Regions from separate parts of the Homo sapiens genome. Here all the other regions are linked to region 2. Evidence: fine-mapped expression QTL. A gene starts in region 2. Each other region holds a variant in brackets. All regions are shown on one strand. Distances are between the middles of the regions.

The links. PIP is the estimated chance that this variant, and not a neighbour inherited with it, causes the effect.
Region 1: its variant is fine-mapped to the expression of BCAM in stomach (GTEx, PIP above 0.99).
Region 3: its variant is fine-mapped to the expression of BCAM in whole blood (TOPMed, PIP above 0.99).

Annotation. Positions count from the first base shown.
Region 1 is chr19:45,354,543-45,363,277 of GRCh38, forward strand. It overlaps ERCC2 (ERCC excision repair 2, TFIIH core complex helicase subunit), which reads right to left. Exons shown (of 23, transcript NM_000400.4): 12 at 6,982-7,100; 13 at 3,088-3,157; 14 at 2,932-3,001; 15 at 2,728-2,829; 16 at 1,123-1,186; 17 at 188-309. Among named protein-coding and RNA genes, the nearest start is that of ERCC2, 12 kb to the right of the region's middle. RefSeq lists a silencer at 2,753-2,919. The variant G/A (reference allele first, on the strand shown) is at 3,652.
Region 2 is chr19:44,804,086-44,814,473 of GRCh38, forward strand. It overlaps BCAM (basal cell adhesion molecule (Lutheran blood group)), which reads left to right and starts at 5,018. Exons shown (of 15, transcript NM_005581.5): 1 at 5,018-5,121; 2 at 7,140-7,261; 3 at 8,078-8,306; 4 at 8,393-8,463; 5 at 9,165-9,261; 6 at 9,353-9,535; 7 at 10,067-10,203. The coding sequence starts at 5,040. RefSeq lists enhancers at 8,192-8,738, 9,390-9,922.
Region 3 is chr19:44,548,068-44,558,455 of GRCh38, forward strand. It overlaps the pseudogene CEACAM22P. Among named protein-coding and RNA genes, the nearest start is that of CEACAM20, 24 kb to the left of the region's middle. The variant G/T (reference allele first, on the strand shown) is at 5,928.

The DNA.
Region 1 (8,735 bases), 550 kb after region 2:
GCCTGATGTACTGGGGGCGGGGCATGGGGGTGTGTGCTGCTTACACCCCATTCCTACATGCTGCACACACTCTCCTGTCACACAGGAAACCTGTCACCATCAGAGTGTGAGAGGAATGAAGCTGACATAGCGGTGCAGTGCCAGGGACTGAGGAGAGCAGGTGCAGGGAGGGGGTGGCCAGGCGTACCTGCTCATACCAGGAGGCCACGGTGCTCTCCATGTACTGGTAGCTGGTGAAGAAGGCCACGATGCCATCAGGGACCACAGCGGACATCTCCAGCAGGAGGTTCCCATAGTTCCGGATCACAGCTGCAAGGGGTCAGAGGTTGGGCCCTCTCCTGGCCCAGGTCCTCCTCCCTTCTCTGTCTTAGAACTAGGAGTTTCTGGAAACCCCACTGAGGCTGCCTGTCAGGCTTTTCACACATATCCCCCTCCTCCTCCTCCCGGGCGTGTCTGAGGACCCGCCTTGCCACTTCCTGAAGTCACACCTGGCTATGTGATTTGCCATGGCCAATGAAATGAGTGCAGAAGGGGCCGGGCGCTGTGGCTCACGCCTGTAATCCCAGCACTTTGGGAGGCCGAGGCGGGTGGATCATCTGAAGTCAGGAGTTTGAGATCAGCCTGGCCAACATGGCGAAACCCCATCTCTACTAAAAATACAAAAATTAGCCCAGCGTGGCGGCAGAGGCCTGTAATCCCAGCTACTCGGGAGGCTGAGGCATGAGAATCGCTTGAACCCGCAAGGCAGAGACTGCAGTGAGCCGAGATCATGCCACTGCACTCCAGCCTAGGCAACAGAGCAAGACTCTGTCTCAAAAAAAGGCCATGTGTCACTTCCAGGGGAGCACCCTTAGGAACCAGTGCACAATACACTGTGACCACTGTGATCCCACCTGTCACATTATGCTGCCTCTGACACACCCAGCGGTGGAGGTTCCCAGGTGAGGAGACACAGGGCAGGCCCCTACCAGCTCACAGTGGACGTGTACCACGGGCAAGAAGGAAACTCTGGGCTGAGCAACTAAGGCCAGGGATATTTGTTACAGCAGCATGACTCAGCCCACCTGACTGATACACCTCCCCTCTTGGAACCCACAGAAACCAGCCCCACTGGCAGCATACCAATATCCTCCCGGGTCTCAAATTTGGAGCTGATGGCCACCTGGTCATTGCCACGGCCGATGATCTGGAGAGCAACAGAGGTCACGATAAGCGAGGCAGCAGCAACTGCTCCAGCGTGAGTGCTGACCACCTGCTGGTGCTGTTCTAAGCTTTTTTTTTTTTTTTTTTTAAAGAGAGACAGGGTGTCACCATGTTGCCCAGGCTGATCTTGAACACCTGGCCTCAAGTGACCATCCCGCCTTGGCCTCCCAGAGTGCTGGGATTACAAGCATGAGCCACCACACCCAGTCTGCTCTAAACTTTTTATAAACACAGTGTCATTGAATGAACCCTCAGCAACCCTGTTATCTGCATTGCACAAATGACCTGGGCTCAGAGAAGGTGAGTTGCCTGCCCAAGGTCACACAGCAAACAGGTGGCAAAGATGGAACCGGACCCGAGTCTGTCCACACTCTCCAACAGCAGCTACACTCTAGCCAGCCCCAGGCCCTGGGCCAGCCGGATCCCGAAGAACACCCCTCGCCATGCCGGCGGGCATCCCACCAGCCGGCAACCTCACACAACCACCATGCAGTGGGGGTCATTACCGGTCCACAACCTCTGACAGGCAACTCCAAAAGCCAAAAGCTCTGAACACATTTCTTTTTCAAGTTTGGCACAAACTCATGAAGCAGCAAAACCTGCCCTGCCCCGAGTCTCTCCAGAGGCCTGACTTACTCCTTAGTGTGATGCTTCCCAATCTTTTACTGCCGAAATGGGAGTTTGACTCGGGGGAGCTGCCCAGACCCCACTGTGGGCATCACACACCACACAGCATAGGCCTTGTCTCTAAAGGCTGGAAAATTCTGAATTCCAAAACAAATGGCTGCGCGCAGTGGCTTACACCTGTAATCCCAGCACTTCGGGAGGACCAGGCGGGCGGATCACTTGAGGTCAGGAGTTTCAGACCAGCCTGGCCAACGTGGTGAAACCCCGTCTCTACTAAAATTACAAAAATTAGCTGGGCATCGTGGCACATGCCTGTACCAGCTACTCAGGAGGCTGAAGCATCAGAATCACCTGAATCCAGGAGGCGGAGGTTGCAGTGAGCTGAGATCCGTGCCACTGCACTCCAGCCTGGGCAACAGAGCAAGACTCCGTCGCACAACAAAAACAAAAAACCACATCCAGCCTGGGGACTTCAGATAAGGGACTGAGGGCTCATGTTGACATGCACGTGTTACAGAGACGGAGACGGAGAGGAAGGCTCACTTACCTGGGTCACAGCCAGACCACGTACTCGGCAAGATGCTAAGATGCTGACTAAGCGCCTACCTGTGCCAGGCCCTGGGCGACCTAAGTGGTTTACCCCAGTTCTCTCTCTCAATCCTCTCAACCACCCTGGGAGATCAGGGAGGATACATTCCCATTTCACAGATGAGAAAACTGAGGCTTGAGAGTCGAGCCCACAGAGAAGCAGAATCAAGCCTAAGTCTGTCTGAATCCCGAACCCAGCCTCTTCGCTGTAAAGCTCTCCTGCCTGAGCAGTGGGGGAAGCCAAGGAAGGAGGGCGGCCCCTTGCCCCCATCTCCCCTCCCGGCCCCAGCCCTAGCCTCTCCCACTCACCATAGGGCAGAGGCAGACCCGTGCCAGCGTCATGGTGAAGGTTGCCATGGTGACGGGGTGGAAGTCCAGGATCTTGGGGTAGATGTCCAGCGGGGACAGTGTCTGTGGCGGGACAGTGGGAGGGATCTCAGCAGGACTGGGCAGGGACCAGGAGGCCCATGGAGGGAGGTCAGGGACTAGGAGGGGACGGGGAAGGGTCCTTACCCCAGATGTGATGATGACAGACTGGAAACGCTCAAATACGGGTTTGATGGCCAGCGAGGCGTCCATGCAGCTGGAGAGAGATGAGGGCAGTGAGGGCCCGGGGGGCTGGGCCCCCGACCCACAGAGCATTCACACCCTCACCGGGCAGGGTCCCACCTGAAGTGCAGGATGGGGTTGGCAATGGTCGGGGTTCTGTCGTCAAAGGGCTCGATGATGATGGTGAAGCCTGCAGAGGGCAGGCAAGGAGGGGTGAGATTACCCCACTACAGCCACAGCTGCACCCACTCAGTCATTCCCTCTCCTGCTCCCTCGCTTCACCCCAATCTCCACCCCGTACTGCCTGGGAGTAAATGCGACCAAACATGACTGCTTAAGCCCCAAACCAGGCATCTGAGTCCAAAATACACCCCAACCTGTCCGCTTCGGGCCCACACCTGTGCAAACTTTCACGAAGGATCCCAAGTAGAGAGCCCACAGCCCCGCCCACTGCTCACTCTCCCAGCACCGCATGGGCTGCCCAGCACCCACGCCAAAGCCAGGAGCCAGAGCCTCAAGCTTTCTCCCATGACCTTTTCTTGTTTTTGTTTTTTGAGATGGAGCCTCGCGCTGTCGCCCAGGCTAGAGTGCAGTGGCATGATCTCGGCTCACTGCAAGCTCAGCCTCCTGGGTTCAAGTGATTGATTCTCCTGCCTCAGCCTCTTGAGTAGCTGGGATTATAGG[G/A]ACACCCCCCTACAACACACCCAGCTAATTTCTACATTTTTAGTAGAGATGGGGGACCTGCAGTGGTCCACCCGCCTCAGGCTCCCAAAGTGCCAGGATTACAAGTATGAGCCACTGCACCTGGCCTCCCACGACCTTTCTACCTAAGCCATCAGCAAAGCCGGGCAGCTCTGCCTCCAAAACCTACCTGCAATTCGCCCACTGCCCCCGACCCCACGCGGGGCCAGCCACCATCACCTCCTGCCTGGACCCATCATCCCCTGCTCGCTTCACGGCAGCCAGAGGGACCCTAGGGAAACCTGAGTCCCTGAGTCCAGCCATGTCACCTCCCCGCCCCAAGAAGCCTCCCATGGCCCCCACATGCCTCCAGTGGCCTGGTGCCTGACCTTCAAAAATCAGCAGGCTCAGTCCCCCCAGGGCCTTTATACTTGCTGGTCCCATGTGGCCTGGAAAACCTCCCAAGGCTGCTCCATTTGGTCATCTGAGACTGCTCAAAAGTCAGCCCCTCCGAGAGGCCCTCCCCAGCCACCTTTTCTACGCAGACATATTCCAACACAACAATGTATTTTTTTTCATGATAACTGTCACTTTCTGGAATTATTTCCTTGTTTATTTGGCTGCATCTTTGCTACTGGTTTTCCCATCTGGAATATAAGTTCTGGGGGGTTAGGGATGAGATCTTTTTTGGTTCCTGCTGCTTCCACAGTGCTGAGCCTGGCCTGTTTGTTGAAGAAATAAATGAATGAATGAATTTACATATTCGGTTTCACACAGTGAAAAAAAATCAAGTCCTCTGTGCTGGGGACACAGTGGTGACCAAGCCAGCCTTGCCCCTGCTCGCATGGGTTCGCAGTCCAGTAGGAGACAGACTTGTCCTCAGATAGTGATGACTGAGAGTGGGCAGTGCTGGGACAGAGGTGCCCAGAGGAGGGGCCTGACTCAGCCTGGGGGTCAGGGAGGGCTTCCTGGAGGACAAGACATCTCTACTAAGCTGAGAACCTAAGGATGAGGGGGAGGTGGTTGGGGGATGAGGAAGATGAGGAAGGATGATCCAGGTGAAAGACCATGAGGTGTTGGCAGATGGGAAATAGTGGGTAGAGAATGACAAAGGTAGGGATGGAAGATGGGGCAGGACAGAGAGACAGAGGCAGAAGCAGCAGCCAGCCGGCCTCGCTACCCAGCCCCAGGGCAAGGGCCCAGATCTCCATCCTCCTGTCAGGCCCTGCCGCAGGACATGAGGCCCGATCTGGTTTCCTGGGTACAGGAGAAACCCCCAGGAGGCAGACTGAGCCCCTGGTCAGCTTCACGCTGAGGATGGGGAGGGAACACCGGCCCATAAAGCCTCCAGAATGATGTCCCTCTCTCGTAACCTGAAAATCTGAACATCAGCCTCTACTCCTCTTGTCCCTGGTCCCAAAACCCAGGCACCACGCTCCCCATATCCCAGCCTCTCTACCTCCCACATCTCTCTCCAAACCATACCTTTCTCTCTCCCCATGGCCACATCCTGGCCAAGGCCCCTCCCCTCCTGCTCAGGTCCCTGCCTGCCACCCAGTCTCCTGCCTCTAGTCCCTGCCAGAAGAACTCTTTTTTTTTTTTTGAGACAGACTCTCATTTTCACCCAGGCTGGAGTGCAGCTGGTGTGATCTCGGCTCACTGCAACCTCCGCCTCCCGGGTTCAAGCAATTCTCCTGTCTCAGGCTCCTGAGTAGTTGGAACTATAGGTGCGTGCCACCACGTCCAGCTAATTTTTGTATTTTTAGTAGAGACGGGGTTTCACCATATTGGTCAGGCTGGTCTCGAACTCCTGACCTCAGGTGATCCACCCACCTCAGCCTCCCAAAGTGCTGGGATTACAGACATGAGCCACTATGCCAGGCCTATTTTTTTTCTTTTTTTTTTTTGAGACGGAGTCTTCGCTCTGTCGCCCAGGCTGGAGTGCAGTGGCACGATCTCGGCTCACTGCAAGCTCTGCCTCCTGGGTTCACGCCATTCTCCTGCCTCAGCCTCCTGAGCAGCTGGGACTACAGGCGCCCGCCACCACGCCCAGCTAACTTTTTTTGTATTTTTAGTAGAGACGGAGTTTCACCATGTTAGCCAGGATGGTCTTGATCTCCTGACCTCGAGATCCGCCCGCCTCGGCCTCCCAAAGTACTGGGATTACAGGCGTAAACCACCACGCCCGGCCTTTTTTTTTTTTTTGAGACGAAGTCTTGCTCTGTTGCCCAGGCTGGAGTGCAGTGCCACAATCTTGGCTCACTGTAACCTCTGCCTCCTGGGCTCAAGCAATTCTCCTGCCTCAGCCTCTCAAGTAGCTGGGATTACAGGAGCCCACCATCACACCTGGCAAATTGTTGTATTTTTAGTAGAGACAGGGTTTCACCATGTTGGTCAGGCTGGTCTCAAACTCCTGACCTCAAGTGATCTGCCCACCTCGGCCCCCCAAACTGCTGGGATTATGGGCGTGAGCCACCATGTCTGGCCCCAGCTAATTTTTGTATTTTTAGTAAAGATGGGGTTTCGCCATGTTCACCAGGCCAGTCTCGAACTCCTGACCTCAGGTCATCTGCCTGCCTAACCATTCCAAAGTGCTGGGATTACAGGCATGAGCCACTGCGTTCAGCACCCAGAAGAAATCTTTCCAAAGCACAACTCTGGGCCGGGCATGGTGGCTCACGCCTGTAATCCCAGCACTTTGGGAGGCCGAGGCCGGTGGATCATGAGGTCAGGAGATCGAGACCGTCCTGGCCAACATGGTGAAACCCCACCTCTACTAAAAATACAAAAATTAGCTGGGTATAGTGGCATGCGCCTGTAGTCCCAGATACTCGGGAGGCTGAGGCAGGAGAATTGCTTGAACCCAGGAGGCAGAGGCTGCAGTGAGCCAAGATCACACCACTGCACTCCAGCCTGGCAACAGAGCAAGACTCCGTCTCAAAAAAAAAAAAAAAAGCACAAATCTGACCTGGCACCTTGCTTGCTAGAATCTGCCATGGCTCCCCAGTGCCCTCAGGAGCACAAAGATCAACTCATTACCGTGCCCTCTAGTGTGAGCTGACCCCATAGAATTTCTCTGGCCTCCTCCCTTACCACTGCCCATGCCATCCTTCTCCACTCTGCAGCCCGAGGAAGTCTGTGAAAATGTAAATCTGAGCACAAGGCTTACTCAAGAACTATGTATGGCTCCCCACTGCCTTCAAAATAGGGCCCACACTTCCAAGCCAAACCCCACAAAGCCCTGTGTGTCCTGCCAACAACCCTCTAGACCCTGCTGGGACCCTGATTCCAGCTGCTAGGAGGCCCAGCAGGGACAGAAAAAGGTGAGCTTACCTTTGGCGTAGGTGCTGACAAGGGTGGCAAAGTTAGCAAGGAGGGTGAGCGGGGAGAAGTCAGCAAGGTCGGTGATCTCCAGAGTATGCAGCAGGGACCGGAGGCGTTCAGCACAGAATCTGGCGGGGAGGAGAGACGGGGTCGGGGGGCAGACGGAAGCATGAGCAGGACCAGCAGCCCTGCCTCCGCCATCACGACGGTCACGTGCCTGTCTCCCCAGCCAATGAGCACTCAGTGAGGGTGGGCACTGGGCCTGTTTTGGAAACTTGCACCCCCACGCTGTACACCTGCATGTCACAAATAGCCATTGCCGCATAATGGCACAGACAGAGCAATAATCAGACACTCCAGAGTCATGTGGTCACTTGTCACACCTGCTAGCACGACCTCCTAAGTGGGTTCTTTTTTTCTTTTTCTTTTTTTTCTTTGTTCAGATGGAGTCTTGCCCTGTCATCCAGGCTGGAGAGCACTGGTACCATCTCGACTCCGCCTCCTGGGTTCAAATGATTCTCCTGCCTCAGCCTCCCAAGTAGCTGGGATTACAGGTGCCTGCCACCACACTCAGCTAATTTTTGTACTTTTAGTAGAGACGGACTTTCACTATGTTGGCCAGGCTGGTCTTGAACTTCTGACCTCGTGATCCACCTGCCTCAGCCTCCCAAAGTGCTGGGATGACAGGTGTGAGCCACTGCACCTGGCCCTAAGTGGGTTCTGATCAAAACAAGAGACGCACAATCACACCCAGAACCCCCCAGTCATGGCATTAATCCCGCATGGCCACATGGTCACGCATTCACACCCAGAGCCTCTCCCACTGCCTCTCACGCACCTATGGGGACACACACGGTGTCGGAACCCCATGGGCTCACAGAGGAATGCAGTCAACACCCACATCCCACAGAGTCCCACGGATACCACGTCCACACACTCACGCATGTGCAGGGCCACTCGGCCACAACCACACACAGGCAGGGCCGAGGCAGGGTCATAGAGCAGCTGGCTTTGAAGCCAGGTGGGCAGTCACACTTGCAAACCTGCCTCCCGCACGTCAGCCCTCCCAGCCTGGCTCCTCTAACCCCAGGCGCCTACCCCGGCTGGTCGCTAGCTGAGGATGAGTCTGTCCCCTCCACTGGGCCATGGAGCCTCTACGGCTGTGTCCCCAGCATGAAGCAGGCACTTGGGGAATGTGTGTTGAGTGACTGAGATCCCCTCTTTGCCCTCACAAGTCTCCAATCCTGGGGAAGATGGGCAAACCCACATGGAAGGTGGCCTCACCCACAGAGGCAGGGCAGCCAGGGCCTTTGGAGCCCACAGGCATGGCTTCAAGCCCCAACTACCGGGCACAGTGCTGTGTGGCTCTGGGCAAAGGCTTCCCCTCTGGGAGTCCCAGTGTCCTCATTTGCAGGGTGGGGATGCTGTACTGGGGGTGCAACTGAGGTAAGGAACATAAAGGGCTTAGCTCCTCCTTAGTGCTCAGGGCAGGGTAGGTGATTGGCTTCGCTGCTCTCTCATTAACCCACCAAAGAACCCTGTGAAGTAAAGACCCGACTCCTTGGCCATTTTACAAAGGAGGAAACTGCAGTTCAAAGAAGACCCATGACTTACCCAAAGGAAAAGCCCCCTCGTATCCCTTGGTCATTCTCTGCCTGCCCTGTGCCTCAAGAGACTGACTCCCCCAAAATGCGCCCAGACTACTCCATGGGGACGCCCCTGCCCTCAGGTTTGGAAGATTAGAGGCATCGGTGGGAAGATAC
Region 2 (10,388 bases):
TTTGTTTTGGCTCAGGATGCAAACAAACAGTGCAATCAGTGATGCTTGCCACAGGGCGGCTGGGGGTGCTGGACAAGTGGGCATCTCTCTGTGGTCTCAGGGCCTCCCCCACCATATAGTCTCTGCACTGGCCAGCTTGGGCTTCCCCACAGCATGGCTGCCTCAAGGTAGTCAAACTTTATATGGCCGCTGAAGACCCAGGCAGAAGCTGCATGGCCTTTTCTAGCTCATTTTGGGAGTTCCGCAACTTCACTTCAGCTGAATTCTGTTGGTTGTATGCAAGTCACCAAACTGCACAGATTTGAGAGGAGGGTGCCATAGACCCCAGCTCTTGATGGAAAGAGTATCAAGCTCTCATTGTGGAAACACACATGGGATGAAAGACACTGTCACAACATGGCAAAACCCCATTCCTACAAAAAAAAAAAAATTAACTAGGAGTGGTGGTGCACACCTGTACTCACAGCTACCCAGGAGGCTGAGGTGAGAGGATCACTTGAGCCCTGGAGGACGAGGCTGCAGTGAGCCATGATCATGCCATTGCACTCCAACCTGGGTGACAGAGCAAGACCCTGTCTCAAAAAGAAAAAAGAAAGAGATTGTTGTAGCCGTCTTTGGAAAACAGAATCTGTCCCAGCTGCCATGCATGGCTGGAAGAGGTGGCCAATTCCTGATATTCAAAAGTGTGGAAGGATTTGCCAAGCTTAAGTCACCTTAGCTCCAACAGATGCAGGAAAGCAAACATCCATTCTTGTTGGCTTCAAGAGTGGGCAACAGAGGCTTTCAGACAGTAGGAATTTCCTTAAATGTGGGAAGGAGCTGCAGATGCTAGGTAATCCTTCCCGCAAAATATGTACTATAGCCCGCTCCTTTGGTTTTTTTTGTTGTGTTTTGTTTTTTAGACAAGGTCTCACTCTTTCACCCAGGCTGGAGTGTAGTAGCACGATCTTGGCTCATTGCAGCCTTGATCTCCCCAGTTCAAGCGATCCTCCCACCTCAGCCTCCTGAGTAGCTGGGACTACGAGCACAAACCACCACCACCCCCGGTTAATATGTATTTTTTGTAGATACAGGGTTTTGCCATGTTGCCCAGGCTGGTCCCAAATTCCTGGGCTCAAGCGATCCACCTGCCTCAGCCTCCCAAAGTGCTGGGATTGTAGGTATGAGCCACCACAGCTGGCTTTGAATGTTCAATATCAATAGGCCCTTTGCAGAAGTTCTTATCGAAACTTTCCCCGCACAACCGTCTCTCATTGTACAATCAAAAAATGCATTCACACTGCCACCCAATACAAAAAATTTCAATAGTTCCATTTTCCAGATCTGAGACTGGAATCAGGGAAGAACCATTCCCCTCCAAATATGTCATTCTCCCCATATTCCACAAGCTGTGAGCTAGTTGTAAAGTTAATCGTCACACACTGTGTGAAAAATAATGGGAAAAAAGGTCAAGAAAAGATAAGTCAGCCAGGCACTGTGGCTTCCGCCTGTAATCCCAACATTTTGGGAGGCTGAGGCTGGTGGATCACCTGAGGTTAGGGGTTCGAAACCAGCCTGGCCAACATGGTGAAACCCTGTCTCTACTAAAAACACAAAATTAGCCGGGCATGGTGGCGCATGCCTGTAATCCCAGCTACTTGGGAGGCTGAGGCAGGAGAATTGCTTGAACCTGGGAGGCGGAGGTTGCAGTGAGCCAAGATCACGCCATTGCATTCCAGCCTGGGCAACAAGAGTGAAACTCTGTCTCAAAAACAATGAAAAGGTAAGTCTGGCCAACCGTGGTGGCCCACACCTATAATCCCAGCACTTTGGGAGGCTGAGGTAGGAGGATCGCTTGAGCCCAGAGTTTCAGAAAAGATAAGCCTTGTTAGTTAAAATATGTGAGGATATACACCTGCGGCCGCATGGATGGAATTAGAACTTTTTTTTTTTTTTTTTTTTTTTTTGATACTGAGTCTCGCTCTGTCACCCAGGCTGGGGTGCAATGGCATGATCTCAGCTCACTGCAACCTCCACCTCCTAGGTTCAAGCAATTCTCCTGCCTCAGCCTCCCGAGTAGCTGGGATTACAGGCACCTGCCACAACCCCTGGCTAATTTTTTTATTTTAAGTAGAGAGGGGGTTTCACCATTTTGGCCAGGCTGGTCTCAAACTCCTGACCTCGGGTGATCCACCCACCTCGGCCTCCCAAAGTGCTGGGATTGCAGGCATGGGCCACCATGACTGGCCATTTTTATATTTTTTTGTAGAGACGGGGTTTCGCTATGTTGCCCAGGCTGGTCTCAAACTCCCGGGCTCAAGCAGTCCTCCCGCCTCAGGCTCCTAAATTGCTGGGATTACAGACGTGAGTCCCTGCGGCTGACCTGGACCTCAGCTTTTACCCTAAGTGAGACAGAAGTCATGGGAGGACCCTGGGGCAGAAGAGTGACATGAGTTGATTCACATGTAAAAGGAATCCTTCAGGCTGTTTTGTGAGAATAAATTACAGGGGACAAAGGCAGATGATGTTACAAGACTAGTTTCTGCAAGTCTGCAAGGGTCCACGGCTGCTGTTTTGGTGTTTCTGACTTTTCTCCTTCATACACATGCCATAGAGTTCTCCTCCCTCACCCAGAACCTCAGATGGCTAGGTTCTTCTTTTTTTTTTTTTTTTTTTTGAGACAGAATTTCACTCTTGTTGCCCAGGCAACATCGTGCAGTGGCACGATCTCAGCTCAGTGCAACCTCCACCTCCCAGATTCAAGCGATTCTCCTGCCTTAGCCTCCTGAGTAGCTGAGATTACAGGCATGTGCCACCACGCCCAGCTAATTTTGTATTTTTAGTAGAGATGCGGTTTCACCATGTTGGTCAGGCTGGTCTCGAACTCCTGACCTCAGGTGATCCACCCACCTCGGCCTCCTAAAGTGCTGGGATTACAGGCATGAGCCACAGCGCCCAGCCTCAGCTGGCTGGGTTCTTGAGGGAGGTGGAAGTGGGCGATGGCTGCTGAGAGGGCATGTACCAGGGTCCAGCCCAAACAGAAGGTGCACAGGCTGGGGACAGAAGAGCTAGGGTATGGGTGTCGGTGCTCACAGTGTGTGAGCTTGACAGCACCTGGGACTGTCTTGGAGTGCCGCCGCATTCCCCATGAGTGAGTTTGTATTGTATATCCTGGGATGCTCCAGTCTGGATGGAATCTGCACGTGAGTTTGTGTGCCTTGCAAACAAACCTTCCCTGAGCACCTGCACTGTGTCTGGTCTTGTGCTGGGCGGGGTGCCCAGGGGAGGAGCCCTTAGCTCACCACAGTGATCAAGACATCCCTGGCCCTGCCCTCACAGGCTCACAGTCCACTGAGGGAGACAGACCTATCCCCAGCCAGGGACCCCCAGAGTGTGCCGGGCTCAGGTGGGGGAGCCCAGAGGGGGAACCTGACCCAGCCAGGGAAGGCAGAGGGGACTTCCTGGAGGAGGGGATGGTACAGTTAATCCTAAAAGGTCTTTCCCAATGTAACAGTTGCTCTGTAGGATGGATGCAGTGGCTCATGCCTGTAATCCCAGCACTTTGGAAGGCAGGAGGATCACTTGAGCCCAAGAGTTGGAGACCAGCCTGGGCAACATAGTAATACCCTGTTTCTATTACCAAAAAAATACAAAAATTAGCTGGACATGGTAACACAAGCCTATAGTCCCAGCTACTTGGGAGGCTGAAGTGGAAGGATTGCTTGAGCCCAGGCGGTTGAGGTTTGAATGAGCTATGATTGCGCCCACTGCATTCCCGGCTGGGCAACAGAGCGAGACCCTGTCAAAAACAAAACAAACAAACAAAAAAAACGTTGGTCTCCTGTATGACCAATGGATAAAGTAACCTTGACCAGTCTAATAACTCCCAGGCTGACCTGTAATCCAAGCCTTCTCTGTATGTCTGAGCAGGCAAAGCCCAGCTCCAGGGCTACCTCAACCCCCAGGCTGATCAGAAGCTTGGGTAACCTCTCCCAGTGTGGCCAGCGACCCCCCACCCTCCCACGTTCTGACCACTGTCCTGGGCAACTAGTGACATCTAGTGGGGGATTTTGTCCCAGTCTGACCTGGCCTGTAGGGGCCTTGGGCAGTCGGACCTGTGACCCACGCTTCCTAGCAGTGGCTGGACTCCTCCCCCTTCCCGCAGGTGCCCTGGCCTCTTCCCCTGCCCTCCTCACCTGCTCTGGCCAGTCTGACTCCTCCCTTCCCCACAAGGTTGGGAGGGAATGAAGGAGAGAGCGGGAAGGAGGAAGGGAGGGTGGCATTCCTGGGATTCCCTGGATAGGGGGAAGAGTGGGAGGGCCTTCCATGGGTGAGCAAGCAGAGAGGGCACCCCGTACCCCACCCCCAGCCCCATCATCGAAGCGGCCTAGGAGGACCTGGATTTGAAGACCATTGAAAATAAGAGATTAAACCGGTTGATTCCAGGCTACTGGTCAGACGAGGAAAGCAGCCCAGAGCACTGACCACAGGGGAAAACATCTCCGGGCATACTGGGAGCAGCTGCTGGGGGCCACTGGTCAGGCTGCGGGGGTCACTGGTTGGACTGGGAGAGGCCAGTGCAGGCCACTCGGACGGCACGCTTGGGGCCATTAGTTACACTGGGAGAGGCCATCGCAGGCCACAGGTTGCAGTGGGGTCCTCTGGTTAAAATCGACGATGCCAGCCCAGGCTGCTGGTCACAGTGGGGACGAGTCCCCAAGGCCCCTGGTCAGAATAACGAGGAGAAGGTCCGCGATTGCCTGGTGAGATCCCAGCTCGGGTCACTGGCTACGCTGGTCGATCAGGCCCCCCGCTGCAGGCGCTGGTCAGTAAGCCCGGACAGCTCTAGGCTTGGGGGCGGACGAGCCCCGAGCCTGGCCCCGTGCACTGGGAGGTCCGCTCCGGGCAGTGGGAGGTCCTGGCCCCGCGCCCGGGCATCGGGGGACGAGGGGGGCCTGGAGGGCGGGGCGGGGCGGGGCTGCCGGGGGCGGGGCCTCTGGCTCCCAGCCCCGCAGCGGCCGAGCTGCAGCCCGGGCTCAGTCTCCGCCGCCGCCGTGAACATGGAGCCCCCGGACGCACCGGCCCAGGCGCGCGGGGCCCCGCGGCTGCTGTTGCTCGCAGTCCTGCTGGCGGCGCACCCAGGTATGGCTCGGGCTGAGGGCAAGGTGGGACTGGGGAGAGGCCCCTGGGGACCCCGGGAAAGCGAGGAGAAAGGGCTTTACCCTGACCCCAGGAAGCAAAATGTGGGGACCCCAAGGAGGAGGGATATGGGAGTGTTGGAAGGTACGCCTTCCAGTGAGAGAGATCTGGGGACAGCCAGGCAGGAGAGCTGGGGATACCCAGGCGGTGGATCAGAGACAACCAGAGAAGTCAGCCCCCTTCCCACTCAGCACCCTGGAATCTGGGTCCCACCTGCCTCCTCCCTCAGACCCTGGAATCTGGGCCCCCAGCCCCTCTTTCCTCAGACCCAGGAGTCCAGGCCTCCAGTGGCTAGAATAGCTTCCCCCAGGGCACAGAGGATCAAAACCCCAGGGCTCTCTCCCTCAAAGGTCCTCAAGTTTTGAGAGGTCCAGGGACCCCTTAGAGAAGCGAGGACCATGTGTCCCCACACCAGCGATCCACATGTATTTAGGAGTTTCCAGAGTCCAGTATAAAGAACCCGCCTCCCTCAGGAAAGGGCTGGAGCACCAGCCCCGGGCAGTGACAGTGGAACAAAGTGTTTCCAAGTGACAGGCCCCCTTCCTGGGGCCTCAGCTACATTTACACACCTGCATGAGGATAGAAGGAGAGGAGGCCGGGGGCTGGGGGGTGGGGGTGGGGGTGCTGGGGACAGAGGGACAGAGAGATGAGAGAGATTGGGGAAGAGAGAGGAACTCTCTGCCTCCACTTGTCTGCAGATCAGACCCAGCCTTAGGCACCAGCCTGGACCCCGTCACCCCTCCCTGGGGACAGGCTGGGGCCAGAGGTGAGCGCTTGGGAATCCAGGCCCCTGGCACACTCATGGTCAACAGTGGGTCCCCAGGGGTAGGGCTGGGCCAGATTGAGCAGAGAAGGGAAGGGAGTTTCTAAGAAGCACTGAGAGCTGATGCCAGGATGCCAGCCCAGAGGGTGAGGGAGGGTGGTGGTTTTTCTACAATAACTACTCCACCAGGCCCCAGCCTCCTCTTCCCTCTGATCCCAGGAGTCCAGGTGCCCAGCTTCCCAAGATCCTGGGCCTCAACCTTATCCTTTTGCAAGATGACTCGACTTATCCCGTTTGCTGTTGTATCAAACTGAGGGGGGCCAAGAGGCGGCTGGGGGCTCTGGCTCCAGGCCGGGCAGGTCTCAGCCAGCCTGTCCCTCCCACATTCCTGAAACCTGCCCAGCCCTGTCCCCCCTCACCGCCCCCACACATCCATCCCGCCTAAGCTCCGGGCCCAGCCGCAGCCCACACCCCAGCCCCTCACTCATGGGAGAGCGGAAGAGACCCAGGGACTGAGTGGTGCAGGTGCAGAGAGAGGCAGAGACAGGGACAGAGATGGAGACCCAAGAGGAGAGACACACGCAAAGGTGGAGACCAGGATGGAGAGAAACATTTATCCATCATCACAGAGGTGGCCCTGCCCAGGGTGCTGGAGGCAAATGGCTGAGCCAGGCCTGGCCCTGCCCTGGGGGGTGGCGTGTGCTCTGTTGGGATAAGCAAAGGCTGGTGCAGTATTACCCCAGGAGTGTTCAGCGGAGGCCACAGGGCCCTGTGCAGCCCAGAGGAGGAGCCCTGAGCTCTGCAAGTGCAGGGAGAGATGGATTTGAGACCCAGAGATGCAGGGAGAAGGGATGGAGGGCGAAAGGATCTCAGGGAGGAGGGGCTGGGGCCTAGACTCCTGGGTCTGAGGGAGGAGGGGCTGGGGCCTGGACTCCTGGGTCTGAGGGAGGAGGGGCTGGGGCCTAGACTCCTGGGTCTGAGGGAGGAGGGGCTGGGGCCTAGACTCCTGAGTCTGAGGGAGGAGGGGACAGGGGCCCAGATTCCTGGGTCTGAGGGAGGAGGGGCTGGCACCTGGACTCCTGGGTCTGAGGGAGGAGGGGCTGGGACCTGGACGCTTGTGTCCTGGGGGAGAGGGGACCCTGTCTGGAGGGCTCTTCCTGTTGGTGTGGTGGATGATAGCTCAGTTGCTCTCTTGCAGATGCCCAGGCGGAGGTGCGCTTGTCTGTACCCCCGCTGGTGGAGGTGATGCGAGGAAAGTCTGTCATTCTGGACTGCACCCCTACGGGAACCCACGACCATTATATGCTGGAATGGTTCCTTGTGAGTGCTTGGGGCTGGGGGGCCTGGAGTCAGGGCACAGCAGGGCAGCAAAGGTTCATTCTCTCATCAGTGCCTAAGGCCTGTAGAGATCCACCAAGCCACACTCCTTGTTACAGATGGGGTCACTGAGTCCCACTGAGGGGAAGGGATCTGCAAGGTGCCCCGTGTCTAGGCACAGCCAAGTCTAGAATGACATTGACCTGCTCTGGACTGCGGGCTCTTGAGAGAGAGAACAGAGACAGACATCAAGAAAGCAGAAGCCAGGCACGGTGGCTCACGCCTGTAATCCCAGCACTTTGGGAGGCCGAGGCGGGTGGATCACGAGGTCAAGAGATCAAGACTGTCCTGACCAACATGGTGAAACCCCGTCTCTACTAAAAATACAAAAATTAGCTGGGCGTGATGGCATGTGCCTGTAATCCCAGCTACTCAGGAGGCTGAGGCAGGAGAATCGCTTGAACCTGGGAGGTAGAGGTTGCAGTGAGCCGAGATCGAGCCAATGCTCTCCAGCCAGGCGACAGAGCAAGACTCTATCTCAAAAAAAAAGAGGAAAGAAAATGAGAGACAATCGGGAGAGGGAGAGACCAAGAGGAGAAGGGATGGGACCGGAATGAGATGGAGAAAAGGAGACAGGAAAAATCAAGAACTGATAGGGAATGGGGGCAGGAGAAGGTGGGGAGGGACAGAGGGACCAGGGAGACCCATAACAAGAGGAAAAGAGGCAGAGCCAGGAGCTGCAGAGAGAAAGGACCCAGAGAGAGAGAGACTGAGGAGCGCTGGGACACCCGGAGCTGAGAGCCTGCCCCGCGCCCACAGACCGACCGCTCGGGAGCTCGCCCCCGCCTAGCCTCGGCTGAGATGCAGGGCTCTGAGCTCCAGGTCACAATGCACGACACCCGGGGCCGCAGTCCCCCATACCAGCTGGACTCCCAGGGGCGCCTGGTGCTGGCTGAGGCCCAGGTGGGCGACGAGCGAGACTACGTGTGCGTGGTGAGGGCAGGGGCGGCAGGCACTGCTGAGGCCACTGCGCGGCTCAACGTGTTTGGTAAGTGTCCTCGGGCATCCCCCGAAGGGAGGCAGGCAGGGAGGGGCGCAGGGCAGGGGCTCCTGACGTGAACGTCTTTTTCACAGCAAAGCCAGAGGCCACTGAGGTCTCCCCCAACAAAGGGACACTGTCTGTGATGGAGGACTCTGCCCAGGAGGTACCTCTCGGGTGGACCTTGGCCCCAGGGTCCTGGAGGAGGAGGGGACAGGGCCCTGGACTCCTGGGTCTGAGGGAGGAGGGGCTGGGGACCCCTGGGTAATAAAGGAGGAGGGGTAAGGCCAGGCGAGGTGGCTCATGCCTGTAATCCCAGCATTTTGGGAGGCAGAGGCAGGCGGATCACCTGAGGTCAGGAGTTCCAGACCAGCCTGGCCAACATAATGAAACCCCGTCTCTACTAAAGATACAAAAATTAGCTGGGTGTGTTGGTGTGCAACTGTAATCCCAGCTGCTCGGGAGGCTGAGACAGGAGAATCACTCGAACCCAGAAGGCAGAGGCTACAGTGAGCTAAGATCACACCACTGCACTCCAGCCTGGGCCACAGAGCAATACTCCGTCTCAAAAAAAAAAAAAAAAAGAAGAAGAAAAGAAAAAAGAAAGGAAGGGCAGAGGGGGAAGACTCCTGTGTCCTAGGAAGGAGAGAGCTGGGGGACCCAGAATCCTTGGTCCCTGGAGGATGGTGCTGGAGGCCTGGACTCTTTAGTCTGAGTCGGGGACTAGGAATTTGGACTCCTGGGTCCTGGGAGAGTCGGGAGTTAGGAGCCCGGCTCATGAGTCTGAGTGGGGAGAACTCCTGAGAGAGGAGCCCCGACTTCAGAGTCCCAGCTCCAAGCCCAGGGCCATGCCCGTGTCTGCCTCAGATCGCCACCTGCAACAGCCGGAACGGGAACCCGGCCCCCAAGATCACGTGGTATCGCAACGGGCAGCGCCTGGAGGTGCCCGTAGAGATGAACCCAGGTGAGCAGCGCAGGAGCGCGGCGGGACGTGGGCTGGGGTGGGTGGCGGGGCTATGGCCTGGCTGACTGCCACCTCCCCCGATCTCTCCCAGAGGGCTACATGACCAGCCGCACGGTCCGGGAGGCCTCGGGCCTGCTCTCCCTCACCAGCACCCTCTACCTGCGGCTCCGCAAGGATGACCGAGACGCCAGCTTCCACTGCGCCGCCCACTACAGCCTGCCCGAGGGCCGCCACGGCCGCCTGGACAGCCCCACCTTCCACCTCACCCTGCACTGTGAGTCTGTGCTGGCCTTTGACCTCTGACCTCAGGCTCCACACCTCATGAGGCCTGACCCTCCACCCGGGGGCTTCACACTCCCCTCTGACCCTCTGCCTCCCTACTTCATGCTAAAAAAAAATGTGCTAGTGCTGGCCACTGACCTCTGACCTCAATTGGTCGCACAAGCCCCATCCTGACCTCTGACCTCCGACCTCCACTTAGCACCCTGGACCCCATGAAGTTTATGACTAAATGGTGCTTTCCACCTTCTCACACTGAATTGGGTCCCCCCATGACATCTGGCTCCAAGTCTCACACTGACCCATCGCCCATACGGACCTCTGACTCTTGACCTATACTCTTAGTTTATTTCAACCTCTGAACTCTGGCACTCAGAATAATTGTGAACCTGAGGCTTGAAACCTATGACCCGTAACCTTTGACCCGCCATAGCCCTCACCTGGGATGCAGGGCTGACCTCTCGCCTGTCCTCTAGCCTTGACCCTTCCCCTGATCACAATTCCCATCTCCCTGCCCTTCCCTTAGATCCCACGGAGCACGTGCAGTTCTGGGTGGGCAGCCCGTCCACCCCAGCAGGCTGGGTACGCGAGGGTGACACTGTCCAGCTGCTCTGCCGGGGGGACGGCAGCCCCAGCCCGGAGTATACGCTTTTCCGCCTTCAGGTGACCCACCCAAGGGTCCCTCTGGGATCCACCCCCCAGCCCCTGACCTCTGTGACCTGCTAACCTGCATAACTTCTAATGTGGGACCTGGGAGTCCCCATGGCTTAGGCAGCCACCTGATCTGGTGGCCCACGAACTAAAAGGACCTCTGACCCCTGATTTGAGAGAGTCAGGACTTAGCATGC
Region 3 (10,388 bases), 260 kb before region 2:
ACAATCTCCATCTACCTTTGTACCTGAGATTGAATGGGTCTGAAAGTCCTTAATTGGGTACATAGTAGAAGCTCAATACATGCCCCTTAAATAAATAAATGATGATAAACTTCTGAGAGAATAGTCATTGTAAACGTCTATTAAGCACTTAGTGTGCAGAGTAGTGGAAAAGAATAAAGAAAAAAAGAGAAAAAAAGAAGCACTTGCTATGTTCCAGGCACTATTCTAAGTTCCTTAAATGAACTAACTCACTTAATCCTCATAATCACCCAATGAGATAGATAATATTATGATTCTCACTTTGCAGATGAGAAAACTGAGGACATAGAAAAGTGAAGTGACTTGCCCAAGGACACCTAGCTAAGAAATAGCAGGGACGGCTGGGCGCAGAGGCTCACGCCTGTAATTCTAGCACTTTGGGAGGCTGAGGCAGGAGGATTGCTTGAGCTTAGGAGTTCAAGACTAGGCTGGGCAACATAGTGAGACTTTGTCTCTACCAAAACTTGTAAAAATTAGCCAGGCATAGAGGCATGTGCCTGCGATCCCAGCTACTCCGGTGGCTGAGGCAGGAGGATTGCTTGAGCCCAGAAGGGCAAGGCTGCAGTGAGCTATGATCCAGCCACTGCACTCCAGCCTGGACAACAGAGTGAGACCATGACTCAATAAATAAATAAATAAAAGAAACAGAAGCACTAGGATTTGAACCAAGGCAGTCTGTAGAGTCTCTGATTTAAACGCTAAGCTATAAATCATGGATGAACCAGTAGATAGTTGGGCTGGAGGTTCTGTGTGGATCAGAGGTGAGTCAGAGCAAAGAAACCCAGACTTACAAGCCACGCCAACCACGAGGGCTTCACTGAGCCTGGATCCCAGGTGGTTCCTGGCCTCACAGTGGTAGGTGCTGGAGTCATTGCGTGTGACTGTGGGGATGGTGAGGACCCTGCCATCTCTGGAGATTACTGGTCCATCCCCTTCCTGAATCACCTCAAGGTTCAGAAACCACTGGAATGTCCTGTCATTGTTTGGAGAAATGCATGTCAAATTCAAGGAGTCTGTGTGCTCCAGAGGGGCCAAGTTCTGGGCTTCCACCGGGGGCTGGTGCAGCTTCTCTGGGGAGAAGGAAAGAGAAAGAATGGCGTTATAGGACATGGGAGGATCTGGAACCCTAGGAATGATCAGCAGCACGAATAGGCTGGGGACCTTGGAAACACCAGCGTTGGCTTTGCTGTTTCCAAGATGACCAATAAGCACACACACACACACACACACACACACACACACAGCCAACAGCTCTACTTCCGGAAGTTCTTAACTGTCTAGAGATCCCAGATCCTCTCCCCAGAAATACACCCAATAACACACACACCACACAAATACCTACACATTTGTATATAATTTCAAGGGGTTATGGGGCACTCTAAAGACCAACTTTAGATTTCAAGTGAGGAATCTTATACCTAGATTACAAATTAGTAAATATCTTTCTTTTTTGAGACAGGGTCTTGTTCTGTTGCCCAGGCTTCAGTGCAGTGGCACTAACACGGCTCACCATAGTCTCAACCTCCCAGGCACAAGCGATCCTCCCGCCTCAGCCTCCTGAGTAGCTGAGATCCATGCATGTCACCATCCTCAGCTACTTTTGAAAAACTTTTGTAGGGTGGGGTCTTGCTGTGCTGCCCAGGCTGGTCTCAAACTCCTGGGCTCAAGTGATCCTCCTGTCTTGACCTCCCAAAGTGCTGGCCTGACAGGAAGTAAATATCTTTCTTGAAGTCAACTTAGAAATACAAGTTGAAAGTTACACATGTTTATATAACTTTTGACCCAATGATTACACTTTTAAAAACAGTTTTATTGAGGTATAATAAGCAAATAAAAATGTTGTATGTTCAAAGTGTACAACTTGATGTTTTGATAGTTGATCTCTACAATCAAGCTAATTAATATATCCATCACCGGCTGGGTGTGGTGGCTCAGGCCTGTAATCCCAGCTCTTTGGGAGGCTGAGGAAGGTGGATCACCTGAGGTCAGGAGTTTGAGACCAGCTTGGCCAACATGGTGAAACCCCGTCTCTACTAAAAAATACAAAAATTAGCCAGGTGTGGTGGCACGCACTTGTAATTCCAGCTACTTGGGAGGCTGAGGTGGGAGGATCTCTTGAACCTGGATGGTGGGGGTTGCAGTGAGCCGAGATCATACCACGACACTCCAGCATGGACAACAGAGTGAGACTCCATCTCAAAAAAATGAAAAAAAAAAAAAGGAAGAAAGGAAAAAAAACTGCTGGATGCTTGCTTGCATTGCTTCCATTGCTTGCACTGCAAGCATTATCTCATGTACTACTGGTACCACCCTGTGCTGTAAGGACTATTAATATCCCATTTTACAACAGGTAAACTGAGGTTTATGTTGGGTAAGTGAGTTGTGAAAAACCAAGTTGTAAGTGGGTGAATCATTTTTAAACTCAGGGCTATGTGACTCCAAACTTCATAACCACTGTGAAATAAATACTATGTAGAAAAATCTATTTTTAAAAAATCTCAGAAAATGAAGCAGGCACAGTTTTCCCTATTCCATCCCGAGCACAGTTAAAAACCTTGGATATTATCACTTCTACACTGCTGGTGGGAATGTAAACTAGTACAGCCGTTATGAAAAACAGTGTGGAGATTCCTTAAACAACTAAAAGTAGAACTACCATTTGATCCAGCAGTCCCACTACTGGGTATCTACCCAGAGGAAAAGAAGTCATTACACAAAAAAGATACTCGCACACGCATGTTTATAGCAGCACAATTCACAATTGCAAAATCGTGGCACCAACCCAAATACCCATCAATCAACAAGTGGATAAAGAAACTGTGATATATATATATATGTTCATATATACGTTCATATATATATGTTCATATATACGTTCATATATACGTTCATATATACGTTCATATATATACGTTCATATATGCGTTCATATATGCGTTCATATATATACGTTCATATATGCGTTCATATATATACGTTCATATATGCGTTCATATATATACGTTCATATATACGTTCATATATATACGTTCATATATGCGTTTATATATACGTTCATATATGCGTTCATATATATGCGTTCATATATATGCGTTCATATATACGCGTTCATATATACGTTCATATATACGCGTTCATATATACGCGTTCATATATACGCGTTCATATATACGCGTTCATATATACGTTCATATATACGCGTTCATATATACGTTCATATATATACGTTCATATATACGTTCATATATATACGTTCATATATATACGTTCATATATATACGTTCATATATATACGTTCATATATACGTTCATATATACACGTTCATATATACGTTCATATATACGTTCATATATACGTTCATATATACGTTCATATATACATTCATATATATGTTCATATATACGTTCATATATATGTTCATATATATATATATATATATATATATATATATGAATGATGGAATACTACTCGGTCATAAAAAGGAATGAATTAACAACATTTGCAATGACCTGGATGAGACTGGAGACTATTATTCTAAGTGAAGTAACTCAGGAATGGAAAACCAAACATCATATGTTCTCACTGATATGTGGGAGCTAAGCTATGAGGACACAAAAGCGTAAGAATGATACAATGGACTTTGGGGACTTGGGGTGAAGAGTGGGAGGGGAGTGAGGGATGAAAGACTACAAATAGGGTGGAGTGTATACCGCTCAGGTGATGGGTGCACCAAAATCTCACAAATCACCCCCAAAGAACTTACTCATGTAACCAAACCGACCTGTACCCCAATAATCTATGGAAAAATAAATAAAATAAAATAAAGCAATAGAGAAAAAGCCTCAAAAATATGAACAGAACATCATTGTTCTATGGGAATAATATCAAGCAGTCTATCACAGGTGCAGCTAAAGAATGAATAAATAAATAAATAAATAAATAAATAAATAAATAAATAAAAATAGATGACTCGGAAAGGAGGAGAGAATATGGCAGACTGGCTGCGGATCTCAAGACCGGAGAAAGCACATGGTGGTGAGTTTTCTGGACTTTCTTTGCGCCTCACAGATCCCAGACTGGGAGCTGGAGAGCCTGGCAATCTAGAAATGCCAATGAGTGTAGATCCAAAAGAGGCTCAAGCAAAGCCTGCTCTAGCCAAAGGACAAGGAGCAGTAGCCTGACAAGATTTGCTAAAGACAGCAAATCTTTACAAGATAATCACTTTGCTGCTGTGATATCCCACAGAAAAGCCTGGACATTTACCCTTGCCAGCTGTACAGAGACACCCATCCCCTCCACCAGGCTGAATAAGCAGCTGGGACTGTCATCCTTGCCCAGCAGTAATGAGCACCGACCCTGCAGTGTCCATTGAGGCCACTAGGGAGCGGTAACGAGGCGTCTCTGCCCCTTCTGGGCAAGATGGTATCAGAGGATGTCTCAGTGGAAAGCCTGAACTCTGCTAACTGCCCAGAGTAACAGTTGCCCCGCCCCACCTGGAATGTCAACAGAGGCCAAATGGGGAACCTGGACCTCCATCCCCACTGGCTATAACAAGATGGTGCCCTTTTTGCCCCACCAGCAAGATGTCAGAGGAGACCTGCTATAACAGAAGATTTAAATGAGATCCAGCGTCTCATAATTTCCAAAATGTCCAGGGTGTTGTTGAAAATCACTTGTCATACACCTACATGTAATCCCAATACTTTGGGAGGCCGAGGTGGGAGAATTGCTTGAGCTCAGAAGTTCGAGACCAGCGTGGGCAACATAGTGAGACCCCATCTCTACAAAAAAAAAAAAAAAATTGACTGAATGAGAAAGACATTCCTGAAATTAAATGAGGAAAGACAATTAATAGAGATGACATGGATTGTTGTTGATGTTTTCTAACTTGGTCTTGAGTTTTCTAGGGGATTTAGTTGTAGATGTTTAAAGTGTAATTTTCACTGGTTACTTCTTTATCTTGGTGGTCGGCCTAATGCCTACATGTCTGACCTGTGACCAGGTGTCCCTCTCACAGTACACTTATTTTTTGTGTGTTTGTTTGTTTTTGAGACAGAGTCTCACTCTGTCACCCAGGTCGGAGCGCAGTGGTATGGTCTTGGCTCACTGCAACCTCCACCTCCCAGGTTCAAGCAATTCTCATGCCTCAGCCTCCTGAGTAGGTGGGATTACAGACATATGCCACTACACCCAACTAATTTTTTTTTTTTTTTAAGTACAGACGGGGTTTCACCATGTTGGCCAGGCTGATCTTGAACTCCTAGCCTCATGGGATCCTCCCACCCCAACCTCCCATAGTGCTGGGATCACAGGCATGAGCCATCACACCTGGCCACAGTACACTTGTTTATAATGGCAGACATTCTTAAGGCTTTTGTCTGACCTGTGTCCAGTTTATTTCTACAAAGAGAGCCATGCTTTAGGACAGCCCTGACCAGGAAAGACGTTAGGTTTGGATGTGTCAGTCAGGTGAGACACAGAGGAGGCAGCACAACAAAACACATGAAATAACAGGGGCAGTTTATTACTCACAGATTCCGGAGAAGACAGAGCAGCACATCTCACAGAGCCAACAGGAAGAAGAGAGTTGTCGGGACACGCACACTCAACCAGCGGGTGGGGAGCAAGAAAGAGAAAGTGAGAGACCTGTGGGCTGATGCTTTTATTGGAGTCTAAGGAAACTGCTCAGGCAGTTTTCCACAGAGAATTCTAACTGGGTTTAGAGCCAGCAGGCACAAGTTGCATGGAGTCACACTGACTGGGAGGTGATCACTGTGGCATATCTGCACAGCCTATGCAGGGTCTGGGGGTCAGGGGGACAGTCAGGTGAGTTATATCTAGCTGTTGCATAAGGAGGTGGTTAACAGGAAGTGGTAGTGTAAGGCAG[G/T]TATCTGGATCTGCCACATTAAGGATCTGGGGGGAGGCGGAGACCTGGAAACTGTGTCAAGGGTGACTAAGCTTTTCTTATGGTATGAGAAAGTCCAACTTATATTCAAAATAGATACTGAGCCAGGCACAGTGGCTCACATCTGTAATCCCAACACTTTGGGAGGCTGAGGCAAGAGGATTGCTTGAGCTCAGGAGTTTGAGACCAGCCTGGGCAACACAGTGAGACCTCCGTCTCTACAAATAAAATTTCAAAAAATTAGCTGGGTGTGGTGGCATACGCCTATAGTCCCAGCTACTTGGGGGACTGAGATGAGAGGTTCACTTGAGCCCAGGAGCTCGAGGCTGCAGTGAGCCGTGATTGCACCACTGCACTCCAGCCTGGGTGACAGAGTGCGACCCTGTCTCAAAACAATAACATTTCAAAAATTGATACTGAGTTTCTATAAAATTGTAAGAATTCACTACACTGATGTTAGAATTGTCTTAAAAGAATCTTAGAGCAGCCAACATAAAAATGCTTCAATGAACAATTACAAACACTTGAAATAAGTGAAAAACCAGAAAGTCTCAGCAAAGAAATAGAAGATATGAAAAAGAACAAGACGGAAATTTTAGAATGGAAAAGCACAATAACAGAAATTTTTTAAAAACTTAATGTTTGAGCCCAGCTGCAGAATGGAGATGACAGAGATAAAAATCAGTGCAGATAAAAGTTACCAAATCTGAACAACAGAAAGAAAATAGACTGATAAGAAGTGAAGAACAGAACTTTGGGACCTGTGGGACTTTAACAAAAGAGCCAACATTCATGTCATTGGAGACCCAGAAGGAAAGGAGGAAGTGGGTATAATGGCTGGTTTCCCAAATCTGGTAAAAGACATACATCTATGGAATCAAGAAACTGAGTAAACCCCAATGCCAGCGTGGTAATCAGGATTCTAAATATAGTCCTTCCAGATTTCTGTTCCTGATTGTTCAATCAAATGCTAATCTAGGTATTGCTTTGAAGGGATTTTGTAATTAAAGCTCAAAGTCAGCTGATCTTAAAATACAGATCATCTGGGTGGGCCTGACCTGATCAGGTGACTCTTTTAAAAGCAGATCAGATGAGAAAGTCAGAGAATCAAAACACAAGGAGGATTCAATGCATCCTTGCTGTCTTTGAAGATGCAGGGGTCAATGTGTGAGCAGGGTAGAGTGGCCTGCAAGAGCTTAGAGCACCCGCAGATGACAGCCAGCAAGGAAACAGACCTCAGTCCTACAACTGTAAGAACCTGGATTCTGGCCAGGCACAGTGGCTCATTCCTGTAATCCCAGCACTTTGGGAGGCCGAGGCAGATGGATCACGAGGTCAGTAGATCGAGACCATCCTGGCTAACATGGTGAAACCCCGTCTCTACTAAAAATACAAAAAATTAGCCAGGCATGCTGGTGGGTGCCGGAGCTTGCAGTGAGCCGAGATCGCCCCACTGCACTCCAGCCTGGGCGACAGAGCGAGACTCCATCTCAAAAAAAAAAAAAAAAAAAAAAAGAACCAGGATTCTGCCACCATCTGAATGAGCTTGGATATGGGTTCTTTCCCAAAGCCTACAGGTAAACCCCAGCCAACTCACATCACACCTTGATTTTGACCTGGTGAGAGAACCCAGTTGAGGACACTTGGACATCGAGGTACAGAAACTGAAATAGTAAATGTTATTCACTCTCTTAGTTCACCCAGAATCAGACTCTGCACTAGAATGTAAGTGCAATTAGTTTATTATTTATTTATTTACTTTTTTGGAGATGGAGTCTCGCACTGTCGCCTGCCACCACGCCAGGCTAATTTTTTGTATTTTTAGTAGAGACAGGGTTTCACCATGTTAGCCAGGATGGTCTCGATCTACTCACCTCGTGATCCACCTGCCTCAGCCTCCCAAAGTGCTGGGATTACAGGCGTGAGCCACCACACCTTAGTGCAATTAGTTTATTTTGGAGAAAGCATTGGCAGAGGTGTGGGAAAGTAAGTAAGGGAAAAGAAGGAAGCCATATAGAAAAATTAGCTCTATAGAAAACTGGAGCTCACCTCTGAAAACTGGTACAAAACACACCTCTGAGGGCCGGGCGCAGTGGCTCACGCCTGTAATCTCAGCACTTTAGGAGGCTGAGGCAGGCAGATCACCTGAGGTCGGGAGTTTGAGACCAGCCTGACCAACATGGAGAAACCCCCTCTCTACTAAAAATACAAAATTAGCCCGGCGTGCTGTCACATGCCTGTAATCCCAGCTACTCAGGAGGCTGAGGTGGGAGAATCACTTGAACCTGGGAGGCGGAGGTTGCGGTGAGCCAAGATCGTGCCATTGCATTCCAACTTGGGCAACAAGAACGAAACTCCATCTCAAAACAAAACAACAACAACAAAAAATAAAACCACCTCTGAGTTGTTCCCCCTAAGTTCAGGGGAATATATCTACCAATTCCTTCTTGGTGTTAGTTAATGGTCACTCCCAGGATGTTAATTTCTCTGACATTTTCAGCCTGCCCTCAGTTGGGGCTTGCATCCTCTTGTACTCAGAGAAATCAGAGAGGCACAGACACTCATGGAAGGGGTTGCGGAAGTACTCACCACTCTCTTTCAGTCATTTCGAGAATTTCTCTTCTTTCATCATTCAGTCGTCCTAAAAGTCCTGTGTGTCAATAATAAATTACACCCACTGAAAGGAAGACGTATATTTACATTTCATGGCCTTTCATTTTCTATTAGTGTCCCCTTCATTCCACTCCATCTTATTATTAGAATGATTCTACCAGTGTCTTTCTGGAAAATAGGTGTAGGAATAAATTTATTCTAAAAAATAAAACAACATCTACGCAAAGAGGTCTTAAAACCTTCATAATTAGCTCTATAAAACAATTAACTCCAAGAAGTAATGCTGAATGCTTTCCAAATGCATACTGACAGTAAGAAAACATTATCAAATACCCACATTTGCATTTTTTCTAGACATGGTTACAGACCTAAATCCCTCAGTTGATCAGCTTGAGGGACCAAATAAATCTCTGTTATCGGTATAGCAACAGCACTTACTTGTTTTGTAGCAGTCAGGGCATACCAAAGTAAGATCAAAGAAAAAATAGAATCTCACGAAATATATTTTCTCAAGGTAAACCCTCACCAAATTATAATTGAATGATTAGTCTGGTATAATTTTAGTAGAAAAATTATAGGAAAAAAAAGACAGGACAAAATATGATAATTGAGTTGGCAAAGATCAACTCCTAAGCAGCTAATTTAGTGTTCAATAAAACCCAAAAATGCAGAAGCATGATTTTCCCATTTATAGTATGTTCACATACTATAAATGAGTTATTTTAACCAATTTAGAAGTAAGACCTGGCCAGGCATGGTGGCTTACACCTGTAATCCCATCACTTTGGGCGGCAAGACAGGTGGATTGCTTGAGGCCAGGAGTTCGAGACCAGCCTGGCCGACATGGCCAAACCCCGTCTCTTACTAAAAATATCAAAATTAGCTGGGCGGGGTGGTGCATACCTGTAATTTCACCTCCTCAGAAGGCTGAAGCATGAAAATCATTTGAGCCTGGAGGCAGAGGTTGCAGTGAGCTGAGATTGCACCACTGCACTCCAGCCTAGGCAACAGAGGGAGACTCTCTCAAAAAAAAAAAAATAGGCTGGGCACGGTGGCTCACGCCTGTAATCCCAGCACTTTGAGAGGTCAAGGCGGGTAAGGTGGGTAGATCACAAGGTCAGGAGTTCGAGACCAGCCTGGCCAATATAGTGAAACCCGTCTCTACTAAAAATAAAAAAATCAGTCAGGCATGGTGGTGTGTGCCTGTAATCCCAGCTACTCAGTAGGCTGAGGCAAGAAAATTGCTTGAACCCGGGAGGCGGAGGTTGTAGTGAGCAGAGATCCTGCCACTGCACTCCAGCCTGAGCGACAGAGCAAGACTCTATCTCAAAAAAAAAAAAGGAAGTGAGACATAAGTATTGTATTGTATCATGATAAAGCAATTATTTGGCATTACACCTTAATGAATTTTATCCAGTCAATTTGCCTTTGTAGACACAGAGTGATTCATGTAATATGATATGTAGCATAATCAAGTTTAATCTCTGTAATAATGGTTGTTTATCTGTAGGCTATAGTTGTAAAAGAAGAATAAATAAATAAAGCAATCTATCAATCTTGATCAAACAATGTAGCCCACAGTTGATTCAGATGTTACAATAATGTAGTTGGTACAACTCACTGGGCAGCATATACCATGAGCACTAATGAAAAATAAAAATCATGGCAAGGCGCGATGGCTCATGCCTGTAATCCCAGCACATTGAGAGGCAGAGGTGGGCGGATCACCTGAGGTCAGGAGTTCGAGACCAAGCTGGCCAACATGGCGAAATCCCATCTCTACTAAAAAATACAAAAATTAGCCAGGCACAGTGGCTCATGCCTGTAATC